Regions from separate parts of the Homo sapiens genome. Here region 2 is linked to region 1. A link means that fine-mapping ties the variant in region 1 to the expression of a gene that starts in the linked region. Tissue or cell type: monocytes after LPS. Region 1 holds a variant in brackets; the other region holds the start of a gene. All regions are shown on one strand. Distances are between the middles of the regions.

Region 1 (8,111 bases):
ATGTTTTTTGTTTTTGTTTGTTTGTGTGTTTTTCTTTGAGATGGAGTTTCGCCTTTGTTACCCAGGCTGGAGTGCAATGGCATGATTTTGGCTCACCACAACCTCTGCCCCCAGAGTTCAAGCAATTCTCCTGCCTCAGCCTCACGAGTACGTGGGATTACAGTTGTGCGTGTGCCACCACACCTGGGTAATTTTGTAGTTTTAGTAGAGATGGGGTTTCTCCATGTTGGTCAGGCTGGTCTCAAACTCCCGACCTCAGGTGATCCACCCGCCTCAGCCTCCCAAAGTGCTAAGATTACAGGCGTGAGCCACTGTGCCCGGCCTCCTGTCATGTATTTTTAACAGGAGTGTCTCAGGAATTTAAGCCCTTTATTTGGACTGACTCCCCTGTTCACTTATTTTTCTCAGTTCAGTGAGTGTTGCCAATAAGAGAGAGATTAGACAAAAAAGACAAAGCACATCATCTCTTTTCTAATGTGGATGTTACTCAGTGATGAGGGGAGAGCAGATAAGATCCCCAGTTACCAAAGCGATTAATAACATCATTCTGTCCATTCACACTCATTCAGCCAGTGTTTATTGAAGAGCTTTGTTTGTCTCTGTCACTGTGATCCTACAGGAAAGACAATACCTCCTCTTAACCAAGGTTGACAAGTAGCTACTCCTAGTTTAATAATTTTTGTAAAACTTTCAGAGCTGTTTTTTTTTTCGTATTACAAATTTACTACATTGGATCTACTACACTGTAGATTCTTCAGACAGAAAATACATATGGTCATGCTAAATAAAACAAAAATAATCTCTAGTTTCAGCACCCACAGTCTTCTAGTCATAGAGAGCAATTCCAGTTGTTGGCTTGAATAGTAAAGCTTTTTTCTAACACAAAACATTTGAGACTAGTAACTTCCTATGCATTTAGTTATCAGTTAATGTAAGTCTGTGTGTAATAAATACGACTTTCATTGAGTTTCGGGATGTCCTTCGTGTTCACGTGTAGCCCTGCCTCATCACCCACCTTAAAGTGGATTGCTTGTATCCAGTTTCTAGTCTCCTTGGCTCTTCGCATGAGGAGAGAGAGAAATGGGAAACCCTAATTCCCTGTTCACTTGATTCAACATCTACGATTTCATTCTATTTTAAAACTCTACCCTGGCAGTACCCTGCTTACTCATTCGTAGCTGCCTTCAGACATGCTATTCTCTGCTTGAACATAGTCGCTCTTAGTTCCTCAACTTTTATTTTCTCACTTAAGAGCCTGCTTCACTGAGAATCATTTCCTAGTGTCATGATTCTGAGGTGCCTTTTCCATCCACTCCTTCAGGCTCCTGTGCTCACCATGCCATGGCCTCAACACACTGTGCTAGAATATTGTTTTACCCCCTGACTCCCTAACTGGACTTTGAGTTGGTAGGTAGCATTTTATCTGTCTTCCAAGGATCTTAGCCATCTCCTGGCACATGGAAGTGGTCATAAAATATCTATTGGATATATGAATGAATAAATGGACTGACATCTTGTGGCAACATCCTTTCCCCCAGTAAAAACCAGAATGGAATATACTTCTTATAGTCCAGTGGTTCTGACTGAATAACATATTTATTTTGGTAGCAGAAAATGCCATTGTTTGGGAAAACTCAAGGCCATCTACTAACTTCTTTATTCTTGCATTGTCGTGATGATGTGACTGATTTCCACAGATCTCATAAAAATCATTCTCGGTATTCTATATTCTATTTCCTATGTATGAAAGGTGAATACTCTTGAGTCATTAATTCAACAAATTAATTCAACAGTTATTTATTGAATGTCAATTATGTTCCAGGCACAATTTTAGGTGGGGCTACAGCAAAGTATAAAACAGACAAAAGTTTCTCCTTTGGGGTTTACATTCCAGTGGAGAGAGGCAAGCAATAATAAAGATTAATATACAAAACAGTATATTAGAGGTGGTAAGTGCAATGGAGAAAAAGCAGGAAAAGAAGAGAGAGAATGAATGGGGGGAAGGGGGTGACAATTTTGCATTGCCTGGCCAGGGAAGGCCTTAGTGAGAGCTGGGTCTCACTAAGGAGGAAATGAGGGCTGGGTCATGCAGCTGTCTGGGAGAAGAGTCCCAGGAAGAGAGAACAGCATGTGCAAAGGTCCTGAGGTGAGAGCATGTCTGTTGTATTTTAGGAACTGTGTAGTCAACTGGAGAGCAGAGAGAATGCTGCTAAATTCTATTATCTATCTATCTACCTACCTACCTACCTACCTATCTTCTATCTATCTATTTAGTAACATTGTATCAGATTACTTTATATATATATTGTATAGGCTGTCAAACTTCATTCATATTTTTATTTACTAATTGACCAGGCAGTTATTTACCACCTACCATGGGCCAGGTTCTATCTTAGGTATTTTAAGGAAAGTAAAATCTATTAGATATAGTTCTTGCCCAAAAGAAGTTTACGAAATAATCAGAGATAAGACACATACAGGACTCATGACACGAGATGAGCTCTCATAAGGAAATGACTACTCATTGGCCAGAGAAACAGCTAGAGAATGACATCTGGGCTTCTTGGAAGAGATGGCATCAAACTGCACCTTGAGAGGCATACAATGCCAACGGCACATCATATGCAATGGTGTAAACGGGGGCACACCCACTGAGTCACTGGCAGTGCAGGATCTGTGAAGGCAGGAGTGATAGGTAAGGTCAAAAGGAAAGCTTTGGTCAGCATTTGAAAGCCTTTGAATGAGTATATATTTTGTGAATTCTCTTCATTAAAAATGTTCTAAGATTTGTCATGATGTTCAGTGCCTTGGTCTTCATAATTCTGTGTTGCCCTCACCTAATTGCCAGCATATTTTAGTTAAATTCAATTAGATATTTCAGTTAGCTATATACATTTTTCAGATTGAAAGCTGTTAACAGGTTGTATAAAACCTGTTTCTTATACTTTAACAAAATAATTTCCAAGTGTACTATGCGATTTTTAATTCTAGAAGGTTTTCTATTAAAATGAAAATGAAATGTATGAAATCTGTCTCTTATTATTTCAGTCTTCTATAGGTTTTCGAGTGTAAATTAGGGAGAAATGCAGAATAATTTAAAATTAAAGTTACTTATAGAGAAAGCTGAATAGAAAAATAATGTGTATATAGCATTTGTTTTTCTAGAATAAAGTAAGCACTTATTTAGCTTTTAGGTTTCAACTATATTGTCTTTCTCTTGAGCAGATTTTACATAGAGCTGGTATGACATATCTCAGTGTAATACATAATATATTACTAATGTCTTTAAATTCAGAAGATAAGAAAAAACTTTGAGATCAAGTTTTTAATTTGGGAAAGGTCTAATTAAACTCCTTACATTGGGATATTTGAGTTAATTGTTAAAGTGCTAATTCAGTTTATCAACCACTTGTTATCACATAGTTTTATCAACCTACACTGTGAAATAAAGGAGTCTAGGGTTTTTTTTTTTTTTTTTTGGAAGGAAACGTATTTATCGAAAGAGATTTATTTAGATTATTCTACATATTCTCTGGGAATTTGTAGTGTTTCTTAAAGTTGGACTAAATGTTGAATGGGAGGATAGGAGGAGAAGGCGATGGACCCTACAGGTGCAAACTCTTTCCAAATCACCAGGGCTTTGGCTGTTACTCACTCACCCCCGCCTTCCTTGCTCTTGGAGCCTTCAGATTTTTCCCCAGTAGCTTCACCTTACAGCAAGCTTAGCAGAAGCAGTTCCACAGCATGCCAACCCCCCTCACTTTTGAATAATCCAGAGACTCCCTGTGCCACAGATAACATGCAATCATAAATCTTCTCAGCTTCAGCAGTTTTCGTCTTCTAAATTCAATTAAGTTGAGCCCAGTAAGAATTTGTGGATCAAACAGTGAGCTCTATATAGATTCAAATTCAACTTAGGGTTCTGATGTTTGTTACTAATTTTCAGGAAAAAAAAATAAAAGAAAAATACTGCTGCTATTTTCTAAAGCTTCCTTATAAAGGTATTTCTTATTGAAACCAACTCATATTTCTCAAATTCCTAGACCACTATCTGTCATGCAATTTGAGTCTGTTTTCCAAATGGTAGAGTGCCAGAGAATCAAAAGCTGCTTGTTTTGCTTGCCTGATTTTCTTTAGCATTCTTTGGAGGATTTAAAGTATGGGGGGAAGAAAAGGAAACCTGACTTACATTAAGAGCTGAACATGAAAAAGGGATTAGGCAAAGCTTTAACTTTTTCATTATGCAAACTTTCCTGAACTATAATACATATCTTTATAGAGTTTTATTAATTGTTGGGGCTGCAATTTGGATTTTGCTAAAAAGTATTTACTACTAAAAACTTCAAGGTTGTTACTAAACACATCAATCATTTTACATTTGGCCCCTTTGCATGGTGAACAGACCGTCCTTCCTCCATCTTTTGTTGGGGAATACCTGGCTGAAGGTCTCAGTGAAAAGCTAGGAAGATACTCCTC[C/A]TCTGAGGGAGACATCTGGCTTCTTGGCTGATTCCATGCACACTTTTGTTAATGGGCTCAGATTCCCCAGAATTCTTTTATGTGGTTACATTGTAGATGGACTGTCTGCATAGTCTTGTCCTCTTGAATGATTTATGTAGAGGTTAAAAATACATATATATTTGGTCTGGTTCTTAGAATCTACGCATAAGATTAAATGAATCTCAGCAAGTTCAGTTTTGGAAAAAAAAATTAAATTTATTATTACAAAGGCAATCTAGTAGAGGATGTAGATTCTCGAGCCAGAATGCTTAATTTGAAACATGGATTTGCCACTTGCTAGCTATACAGTGTTGGACAAGTTATTTAATCTCTTTGTGCCTTCTTGGTTTCCCTAACCACATACAGGATGATAATAACAATATCTACCTCATATGTTTCCATGAGGTTTAAATGGTTTACACTGTCAAAGCTTTTAGGACAGTGCCTGGCGCGACTAAGTACTCAGTGAGTGTTAGTCATGATGTCATGATTATTCATGGTATTCACCAGACAAGAATATGTTCTCATTTGTGTATGATTTAGGATTAAATTTGGGACTAATATTGAGTGGTTCAATGCTAATTTTGATAAGGCTCATGGAGGTGTGTGGTCACTTTTAGTGGAGAGTAACTTTAATTCCTTTTTACATAGTGAAAAAAAGAGTTCACCTTCCACTCACTAGACTTGATTTTGCAGACTCCCTGTTCTGATCTGGATTTTATTATGAGTGAAATGAAGTTAGTGACTCAGTGGTCCATAGGTCATTAGTCTGTAGCTGCTCTGTTACATGGAAAAGTCCTGAATGACAAAGGTCTACTCAAGGGTGGGTTGGCAAGGTAATTTAGAAACCTGTATTATTCCCAACCAAAATTGGAGCATAAAACCTTCTATTCACTATCCAAAAAGGAAGTGAAATCAGCCCCACATAGAGATGTATGCACTCCCATGTTTATTGCAGCGTTATTCACAATAACCAAGATATGGAAAACAGTTGAAGTGTTCATAGATGGTTGAATGGATAAAGAAATTGCAAAATATATACACACAAAAAAAGAAGTGTTATTCAGCCTTAAAAAGGAGATTATGCCATTTGTGACAACATGGATGAACCTGGAGGACATTATGCTAGGTGAATATGGCAGACGCAAAAAGAAAAATACTGCATGATCTCACTTATATGTGGAATACACGTACTTTCTATAGATAGATAGAAATTGTATATAATTTCTGTTCCCTTCCTCAGGGTAATTTAAATGGATATTTTAAAATAGAGGGCTATTAAGCTGTTGAAACATTTCAAATACAACTATAACCTATGTATATCTCTATATGTGGAATCTAAAAATAAAAAAGTCAAATACATAGAAACAGAGGGTAGAATGGTAGTTACCAGAGATGGGAGGAGGGATCAGGAGGTGTGGATCAAAGTTTACAAAGTTACAGTTATGTACGATGAATAACTCTAGAAATCTAAAGCACTGGTGTGAAGATTATAGTCAATAATACTGTAATGTATACCAGAAATTTATTAAGAGTATGGATGTTAGAAAATCTTTCACAAAAAAGAAAGGTGACTGTGAAAGAAATGATATGTTGATTGTCTTATCATTTTACTAAGTATATGTGTATGAAAACATATGTTGTACACCTTAAATATATGTCCTCCCCCCATATAAAATTTCTGTTCCCTTCTTCAGAGTCATTTAAGTGGATATTTAAAAAATAGAGTTATTAAGCTTTTGAAACACTTCAAATACGTCAGCCTATGCATATTAAAATTTTAATGCAGCAAATTTACTAATATTTGCAAAACCAGTTTAGATAGAGATAATATATAGATATATAGTCAGATTCTGACCATGTCCTAAGTGTTCTTAGTATCTATTGATGAATAGATTTCATTAATTTAATGAGATGATAGTATACTAAAACTTGTCTAAGTAAATGGTTGGCGTCCTTGAAACTTCCTATTGAATACAACATGAGTAAAATGTTCGTGTAAAGTAAATATTTTTCAAATAGGGATGTGTTATTGGTGTTTCTTAAATATAGATTACTTGCTGCTGCTTTTTAAATTGGATATAAACTTTAAAGTGAACAGCATTGTAGGAAGTTGAAGAGGAAGAAAATATATTATTTTGAGAAGGTATTATTTAAATCTATATAAATCCAACTTAATTAAGGACATTGGATAATTACTATTAAGGTCACAAATTTATAAAAATTTACAAACTAACATGAAGTTTAACAGCTTTATTCAAGAGTAAAGTTCATGAATTGACTGAAAGAGCTCCTCCTAACCAAAAAAAAAAAAACTTCTGTATTTTTCCATAGAACTAAGGTCTTAATTCCTTCTATCAATCATGTGTTTTCCCCGTTTGCATTGAAGGCTCCCTACTCTGTCCTGCAGCAGCAGTCCCTCCTGTTGGCAGGGCTTTTCTCTCCTCCTGGGGGCTTCCTGCAGTCCACTTCAAACAGGGCTCTGGTTCCCTAGCGGGCCTGTTAAATTATTACCCTCAGGTGTTGATTCATCCTTGGCATTGTTGCATTTTACCATTTTGTAGTCTTCAGGCATGGGGGAAGGGGAAGAGAGTTGAAGAAGATCAAAGTAGCAGTACTGAAGTTGGAGCTTTAGAGGTGGGGATGAGCCCTCAGCCCCTCTGCTGTTCCTCCCTGCCCTTCCCCCGCCTGACCCCAGCCTACCCCCACCACCCCCTGACTTTCTGCCCTCTCAAGCCTAATCAGAAGACAGAGGGGGCTATGTGCTTGAACTGTTTACTTACAAGCACTTTATTTTTACTTTTGCATACAAGCAACAAACGGTTTAACACTACATGATGTTTTATTGTATAGTACAACTGTATAAACAGAAGATAACAGATGAGGACTTACTATTTTTTTGATTCGGTGGTTTTTGAACATACACTCTATTCTCTGTAAGACACTGTGGGGGAAGGTTATGATGAGCAAGAGACTCCTTGTTCCCAGGCAGTGCTGAGTGAAATAGTTAATAAATTTTTATGGAGCGGGACCCAATTATTACTTGTGTTATAGAGCACAAATATGAAACTCCATGAGAAAAGCACATCAAAGGGAAACACCAGCATGGTTTTTAAATATCTGTAATCAGTAAAGTATTGCATGTTCTTTTTAGAAAATCAGAAAATACTCAATTTATTAAACTAAAAACACAGTCACTCTACCCAGAGTTAACCACACTTTGGCACATTTAATTTTCCATATATGTGTGTGTGTGTATCTGTATATCTGTCTATCTATATATATATATATTCGGTCTTTTTTTAATTTTTGTTTCATAAAATGTATGACTCAGTCTATCTTGCTTTTTAAAAACTCTACATTATCTTATGAATATTTCACCATAGAATTGAAAGTTATTTGCATAATATATCAGAGCACATAATAATTTATGTATGTAATCATTTTCTTATTTGGGGATATTTCTGTTCCTTTCAGAATTTGTCCTCTTATAAATAATTCATTGAATATATTTGTGCATAAATCTTCTCATATTCCTGATTTTCTTAGAGTGAACTTCTAGAAATGCAATTTCAGGTCAAAGGTCATGCATATTTTAAAGCTCCTGAACATTT
Region 2 (8,111 bases), 690 kb before region 1:
GATGTTCCCCTCCTTGTGTCCATGTATTCTCGTTGTTCAACTCCCACTTATGAGCGAGAACATGCAGTGTTTTGTTTTCTGTTCCTGTGTTAGTTTGCTGAGAATGATGGTTTCCAGCTTTATCCATGTCCCTGCAAAGGACATGAACTTATCCTTTTTTACAGCTGTGTAGTGTTCTGTGGTATATATGTGCCACATTTTCTTTATCCAGTCTACCATTGATGGGTATTTGGGTTGGTTCCAAGTCTTTGCTATTGTGAACAGTGCTGCAATAAACATATGCATGCATGTGTCTTTATAGTAAAATGATTTATGATCCTTTGGTATATACCCAGTAATGGGATTGGTGGGTCAAATGGTATTTCTGGTTCTAGATCCTTGAGGAATCACCACACTGTCTTCCACAATGGTTGAACTAATTTATACTCCCACCAACAGTGTAAAAGAGTTCCCCTTTCTCCACATCCTCTCCAGCATCTGTTGTTTCCTGACTTTTTAATGATCACCATTCTAACTGGCGTTGTGCGGTTTTGAGAATAGTTCCAAAAGAGGAATTCCTAAAATAATTTTAGCCATGTGTATTCAGAAAGAAGTATGTGAATCGACATGATTTTCTTAGGTGTATAAGATATTGGTTTCCTTACATTAAAATTAATAGTGCTGCTTTCACCACACTTAATATCTCTGTAGCCGAGACCTGACTTAAACCACTTAAAATCCTGCCATATCACCTCTTAGATTACAATCAGCTTACACTTTAAGGACTTTACTACATTAACCTCATCAGCTATCTTAGCAATGAGAAAGGAAAACTATTAATCTTAAACTGATGTGACTCTCTTTTGCCATTTACTCATATAGTTTTCAAATCACAGACCTACACAGGGAAATATTTTTCTGTTCACTGGTGAGGAGTCAGAGACCAGAGATGTTCACACTGAATGTGATGATTTCTAAGCTACTTTCTAGCTCTGACTTCTGTGACTTCATAATTCATATTTGCTCTCCCAGTAAATATACCCATAGTAGATGAAAAATAAGCTATACTGAAACTTAAGAATTGATCATGGATCTATGCAATGATCATCAACAAAGTTTTCCCAGGTAAATCAAGTTGATGTTTACTAGTGAATTTTTCACAAGTTGTTTCTTTACCTGTTACGATTATTACAGGGGATCCAGTTTACTTCAGGGTCTGGGATGTCCTCCAAATATGGGTAGAGAGAGTCCCTGTTGAAGTTCCAGCCATAAATAGCATCTTCTGGAGTCACAATAATATGCGCACCCTGTTAAAAATGCAACTTAATCCAAAGGGGGGCCTGCAAGAGGAGCTGAGGAGCTGAGTGGCTGAGTAACAACTATTTGGGCTTCCCCCACACCCCTTAAATCTTATTTTGTTTTCTATATTTTTATAATTTATTTTCTTTTCCAAAGCATTTTAATTTCCTTTTTTTTCAGTGCACTGTCACTTCTTTTTCTTTTTCTTTTCTTTTCTTTATTTCTAATTTTAGATTCAAAGGGTACAAATGCAGGTTTGTTGCATGGATATGTTACATAATGGTGAGGTTTGGGCTTCTAGTCAAGCATTTTTTTTTCTCTCTTTTTTTTTTTTTTCAGATGGAGTTTCGCTCTGCTGCCCAGGCTGGAGTGCAATGGCTAGATCTCGGCTTACCACAATCTCCACCTCCCGGGTTCAAGCGATTCTCCCGCCTCAGCCTCATAAGTAGCTAGGATCACAGGCATCTGCCACCACGCCTGGCTAATTTTTGTATTTTTAGTAGAGATGGGGTTTCTCCATATTGGTCAGGATGGTCTTGAACTCCCAACCTCAGGTGATCCGCCTGCTTCAGCCTCCCAAAGTGTTGGAATTACAGACATGAGCCACCGCACCTGGCTTAGTCAAGCATTTTAATTTTCTAATCCTGCCATTGTTGTTTCCTATGGCAGTCGTTAACTATAAACCTAGCTTATCCTGGAACCAAGCCTCTCCTTGAACTTTCGCTGATGACTGTGCCTGTGTCAAGACTGATTAATAACTTAAATATTCTGTTTATTTCCTCCTCTGCCCTAGCTTTCCCCTGCAAACATGATTCCTGCTTCTCAGAAAAAGAGGAGCCACAAACTGGTTACTTGAACTGTCCCATGCCTACAAGTACTGCCTGAGCTAACCTGGGCACCTTCCAATTAGAGAGTCACCTTAAAAAGCTCTGTGACCTTCAAGGAAATAGTTGGACTAAGGATGAAAAAGAACATCAGAACTCCTGATAACCTTTTAAATATTAGTATATATAAGAATATAGGGCAGTCACGGTAGCTCATGCCTGTAATCCCAGCACTTTGGGAGCCCAAGGCAGGTGGATCACCTGAGGTCAGGAGTTCAAGTACAGCGTGGGCAACATGGCAAAATCCCATCTCTACAAAAAATACAAAACTTAGCTGGGCACGGTGGCATGCATCTGTGGTCCCAGCTACTCTGGAGACTGTAGTGGGAGAATCACCTGAGCCCGGGAAGTCAAGGCTGCAGTGAGACGTGATCACACCACTATACTCCATCCTGGGTGACAGAGTGAGACCTTAACTCAACAACACAAAAGAATATATATTTATAGATATATGTAATACACATTTATCCATGACTTTTATCACACTTCATGTATTCCTGGTCTACACCTAATCGATCAATAGCTTTTAAAATAATATTTGTGTAAACCACAATTTATACTGTATGATTAACTTCAAACTGAAACCTTCACTAAACTTAAGGACTCACAATGCATTACATATACTTTTATCTTGTAATTAGAATGAAGTGTGAAGTATATAATGCATGCTGGCAAGGAATTGAAAACTTAAATTTGTTTTCAGATTATAAATTTATTCGAAAACCTGCAAAGCCTTAATAGCACATGAGTACATGAAGGCCACTAATACTCTGAAAATAGCACCTAGTCCCTGACCCATTTATCCTCCATCCTCCATCTGTACCAGAAAAGGGGAACAAAGATGTTGAATTTATGGCCAGTTCCTCAAAGGTCTGCTGCTTCTTGATAATGAGCAAATTGTTCTTTTCTTAACTTTGTTCTTACTTTTAGGGAAGTCCTTGCTCTAATTTTGAGAGGAAAGTAGAATTCTAACTGTAAAATAAAGGTTCTTGGCTACTCTGATACATATATCATCTAAAAGTGTAACTGACCCTGACAGTGGCCCTGTCTCCTAGGACCCCCTCCTTTCTCATAGAATCCAGTACACTGGAGAGATGGTAGAGATGGTACCTGATCTGCTGCTGATGTGATCGCTCCTTCCAAAATGTCCAGATTCCGATTCATTAATGCCAAAGCCTCCTCACGAGACACTGGTGTTAGGGTGGCATTGGGCAATATCGCTGCATGCTCATAAACAGCTGCAGTGAAAGTGTCCTGGCAGCTGGCTCTTGAGACATAGAAAAGCAAAATTGCCACGTAAGCTGGCAACTGAGTAGTCATGCTGAAGTCCAATGAGTGCTGAAAAACAGAGCATGTCCTGGTATTTATAGAAAGAAGACACGTGGTGTCCAGAACTTAGTACCTTAAACTACGGAAGTTAATTAAGAAAACGCTATGATTTCATAGCATTGTTACATAACAAAAGACCCTACCTTATTGCAGTAATTTGTGAAGATTAACTCAAGAACTCTATGTACATTAGTTCGCTAGGGCTGCCTAACAAAATACAATAAACTGGGTGGTGTAAAAAATAAAAAATTTATTGCTTTGCAGTTCTGGAGGGTGGGAGTCCCAGATGAAGGTGTCAGCAGAGTTGGTTCCTCCTGAGGGCGGTGAAGGAAAGATGTGTTCCAGGCCTCTCTCCTTGACCCATAGATGGCTGCCTTCTCCCTGTGTCTCTTCATATGCTATTCTCCCCATGTGTGTGCCTGTATCCAAGTTTTCCCTTTTTGTGAGGACACCACTCTAATCTTTAACACAGGGAAAGGGAAAATCCCAGCTCTAGCTTTTTTTGTCATCGTTGTTGTTTGTTTATTGTTGTTGTTGTTTGAGATGGAGTTTCACTCTTGTCACCCAGGCTAGAGTGCAGTGGCGAAATCTCGGCTCACTGCAACCTCCGCCTCTCGGGTTCATGTGATTCTCCTGCCTCAGCCTCCCAAGTAGCTGGGATTACAGGCGCCCGCCACCACGCCAGGCTAATTTTTTGTATTTTTAGTAGAGATAGGGTTTCGCCGTGTTGGGCAGGCTGGTCTCAAATTGCTGACCTCAGGTGATCCACCTGCTTTGTTTTTATGCCAAATAAGGGCAGAAGAAAAAAGCCAACTGAAGGTCATAAACCCAGGGGTACAGGCTCACTGAAAGACTGAGACTCAATCATAGGACCAATTCGATTTAGTGCCCACTGTACTCCAGTATAACTTCATCTTAACTAATTAGATCTGAAATGACCCCTTTTCCAAAAAAGTTACATTCTAAGATACTGACAGTTAGGACTTCAACATATAAATTTTTGGAATTCATATATTTTGGAATGTCAACACAAGACATTCAAATAATTTTAAAACTTTATTATTATTTTCATGTGAATATTTCAGCTCTACACTTTGATTTACTTTATTTTCCTCAAAATGGGGAAGCCAGGACAAAGAGGAATACAAAAGAGTTACTCATTTTCTATTGCTATATAACAAATTATCCCCAAATTCAGCAGCTTCAAAAAGCAAAAATACATCATCTCCCACTTTCTCTGGGTCAGGAATCCAGGGGCAGTTTAGCTGGTGCCTCTGGCCCAAGGTCTCTTTCACAAGGCTGCAGTCAAGCAGCTGCCAGGGCTAGCTATATCAAGGCTTGACTCCAGGAGGATTCACTTCCGAGCTCCAAGCTCCCTCATGTGGCTGACGGCAGGGATCAAGACCTCATTGGTTGTTGCCCAGAGACATGAGTTCCTAGTGATGCAAACCTCACCATAGGGCAGCCCGCATTATGGTATCTGGATTCCCTTAGAGCCAGACAGCAAGTGAACCCACTGGAGATGGAAGCCACGGATGCTTCGTAATGTAATTGGGGAAGCAACACCTCATCGCTTTTGTTGTATTCTATCCAATAAAGCATTAGGAACCATCTTTGAAGCTGCTTATCACAGAGGCAACAGAGGTGTATAAAGAATCAGAGCAAAAAAAAGAAAAAATGAGCTGGGGAGCGAGATCCAGAGAGAGGAGAGGGAAATTATATAAAATAGAAAAACTGTTCATAGATTTTGATATTGAGTAAGCTGGCAAATTTTGTTTCAGTTGTGCATTAAGTATAATATTTACAGAATTAGTGTTTATGTTTTTCCATTTTATTTTTAGATCTATTTGTCTTTGAATGGTATTTTTATAGTTCAATCTGCAAACAGGCATATCTAATTTTTTACTTTAGTAACTATAATGCATTTATTCTGCAATTGCCAAGGTAACCCAGGGGTTGTGGTTGGCTGGTTCTCCTGAGTTTCCGGTAAACACCAGCTTCTCTAACTGCTTGCTGACCTCTTAGGGCCTTTCCATGCCCAGGTGGGTGGGAATACCACATATTTCACAAAAAGATGTCATTATTATGTAACAATTTGTAAAAGGAAGCACTGAAATAAAAGTTAAAACTGAGATGAGTTGGCAAGAGGTTAAAAAATTACTTCTTGACCTTCTTAGATTAAAAATATTAAACCTCCCGTGGAGTTTCTAGTCCAACTCATAAAGAGCTTGGCAGTCATTTTTCCCATGCTCACACCAAGAAAAAAGCTAAACAAATGAAAATCGACAACTTTTCTAGGATGCATCAGAGAATTGAGATCACAGGATAAACTGCGGTCCTCAGAACTGCAGAGATAGGCAGATACAGAGGTTAAGAGTGTACTGCGAGCAGAGTCCTCTGCGGCTGGCGCCAGTACCGTGGGTTCACTTGAACTGTAATTGACGAATTGGTGGAGGCTCAGGGTGGACAACCTTGAGAGTTCTGGTCTGTTCTTCTTAACAAAAGCCTGCCCTCAAAGTAAAGTATTTTACCAGAGCCTAACCTACCTAGGGGAAGGAAAAATGCCAACCCCAGCCACTCTAATCTTTAACTTGGGGAAAGGGAAAATCTCATCTCTAGCTTGTTTTTATGCCAACTAATGGCAGAAGAAAAAAGCCAAGTGAAGTTCATAAACCCAGGGGTACAGGCTCACTAAAAGACTGAGACTAAATCATAGGACCAATAACCTTGTCCCTCCTCCAGCATGTCACTGCCACATGAATCTACCCTTTCTGGCCTACTTAGCATGTACTAGCTGAGAGCAAATCTTCAGATGAAATAATGCAGTTCGGCCAGGCGCGGTGGCTCATGCCTATAATCCCAGCACTTTGTGAGGCCGAGACGGGAGGATCACCAAAGGTCAGGAGTTTGAGATGAGCCTGACCAACATGGAGAAACCCTGTCTCTACTAAAAATACAAAAATTAGCTGGGCATGGAAGGGAGCAGTGTGGGGGGCGGGGGCGCCTATAATCCAGATACTCGGGAGGCTGAAGCAGGAAAATTGCTTGAACCCGGGAGGCGGAGGTTGCCTCGAGCCGAGATTGCGCCATTGCACTCCAGCTTGGTGATAGAGTGAGACTCCGTCTCAAAAAAAAGAAAGAAAGAAAGAAAGAAATAGAAATAGAAACAGTGCAGTTCTTGCAGTAGAGTATCATCAGCAGGACATGGAACTGGGAGGCACCAGCAGCCTCTACTACAACTCCTAGGCTGGTTCTCTGGATCCTTAACCCTACTGCTACAGCCAGCCAAGGTCCCCAAATGCAGCCCTTCTGCTCACACAAAGTAGAAACTGGGAGAATTGTCTCCAAGGAAATGACTTTGAGTGTAGACAAAAGCCCTAATTGATACCTCCAGACTCCTCCAACCAAACTTGCATAGATGGAGCAGATTGCCTTTTGCAAGGAAAACATGACATCGCACTGTCCAGAATAGGGCAAGACCCACAGTATTCTGGATTTTGCTAGCACAGCAGTGATCACCCCACCCCAGGCAGCAGGTCCCCAGAGGAACTCAGAAGCAAGTCCTGCCCAGCTTACGCAGAGAGAACCAGAAACAAGGGAAAAGGAGGGAAGAGCAAGGACTGAGTGGAGTGGGCACTGCCTCTTGCACTTCACCTGGTGAACTCTGAAAAGCCATGTGCACAGCATGTAAAAGTGTGTCCATATACTTGTGTCTGATAAAAGATTGATTGGCAGTCGGCCTCTGCATTGCTACTCAAAATATACGCCCATATTTTAATATTTAGTGGCTACAACACAATGTCAATTCTTTTGTTGACATTAATCTGGTTTTAGGAGAAACAATCCATTTTTCCTCTGGTCTCATAGCACAACAACTAACACAAAAGACTGGTTACTCCCAAGTAGGTGGAGATTTCTCCCCACTAGAAAGCAAGCAATTGACTCTGCATCAGACATCAGCTGGCTATCTTCCAGTTCAATCCAAATACTATTTATCCAAAGATAGCATCAGATCCCACATGTTAAGGGCTCAGTCCCACAAAACCGCCCCCTCCTTCCCACCAGTAACAAGTCTGGGCTTCCAGATCTTCCGACCAAATGGCTCTGGGTTGGGGTTTCCATGACCCCTTTTTTTTTTAGTTCAATTAGTTTGCTAGAGTGGCTCACAGAACTCAGGGAAACACTTACCTTTAGTGGCTTATTGTAAAGGATATTACAAAGGATACAAATGAAGAGGTGCATAGAGCAAGGTATGGGGGAAGGACTGGAGAGCCTTCCACGCACCCCTAGGTGTGCCACCCTCCAGGAACCCTCCACGTGTTCAGCTGTAAGGAAACTCTCCGAACCCTGTCCTTTTGGGTTTTTATGGAAGCTTCATTACATAGTCACGATTGACAACCATGTAGAAATGCGATTGGACAAAAAGGTTATGATCCCATACTAACAGTTTGAGTGGGGAAACCCAGTAAAGCTTGTCTGTTCAGGTTTGTCTTGACATCTCTTTATAGCATTTCTTCCTCTAGGGTATGGGGTGGGACCCTCTCTGAAATGAGGGTCTTTTGAGCCACAATCAGATTATAGTCCTGCCTTAGGTAGGTAAAGGGAGGACAGGGTAAGGTC

What was found. PIP is the estimated chance that this variant, and not a neighbour inherited with it, causes the effect.
Region 2: VNN1 starts here. The variant in region 1 is fine-mapped to the expression of VNN1 in monocytes after LPS (Quach 2016, PIP 0.95).

Annotation. Positions count from the first base shown.
Region 1 is chr6:133,403,791-133,411,901 of GRCh38, forward strand. All of the region lies in intron 3 of EYA4 (EYA transcriptional coactivator and phosphatase 4), which reads left to right. Among named protein-coding and RNA genes, the nearest start is that of EYA4-AS2, 49 kb to the right of the region's middle. RefSeq lists an enhancer at 6,756-7,288. The variant C/A (reference allele first, on the strand shown) is at 4,477.
Region 2 is chr6:132,710,554-132,718,664 of GRCh38, forward strand. VNN1 (vanin 1) reads right to left here and starts at 3,502. Exons shown (of 7, transcript NM_004666.3): 1 at 3,273-3,502; 2 at 1,156-1,286. The coding sequence starts at 3,482.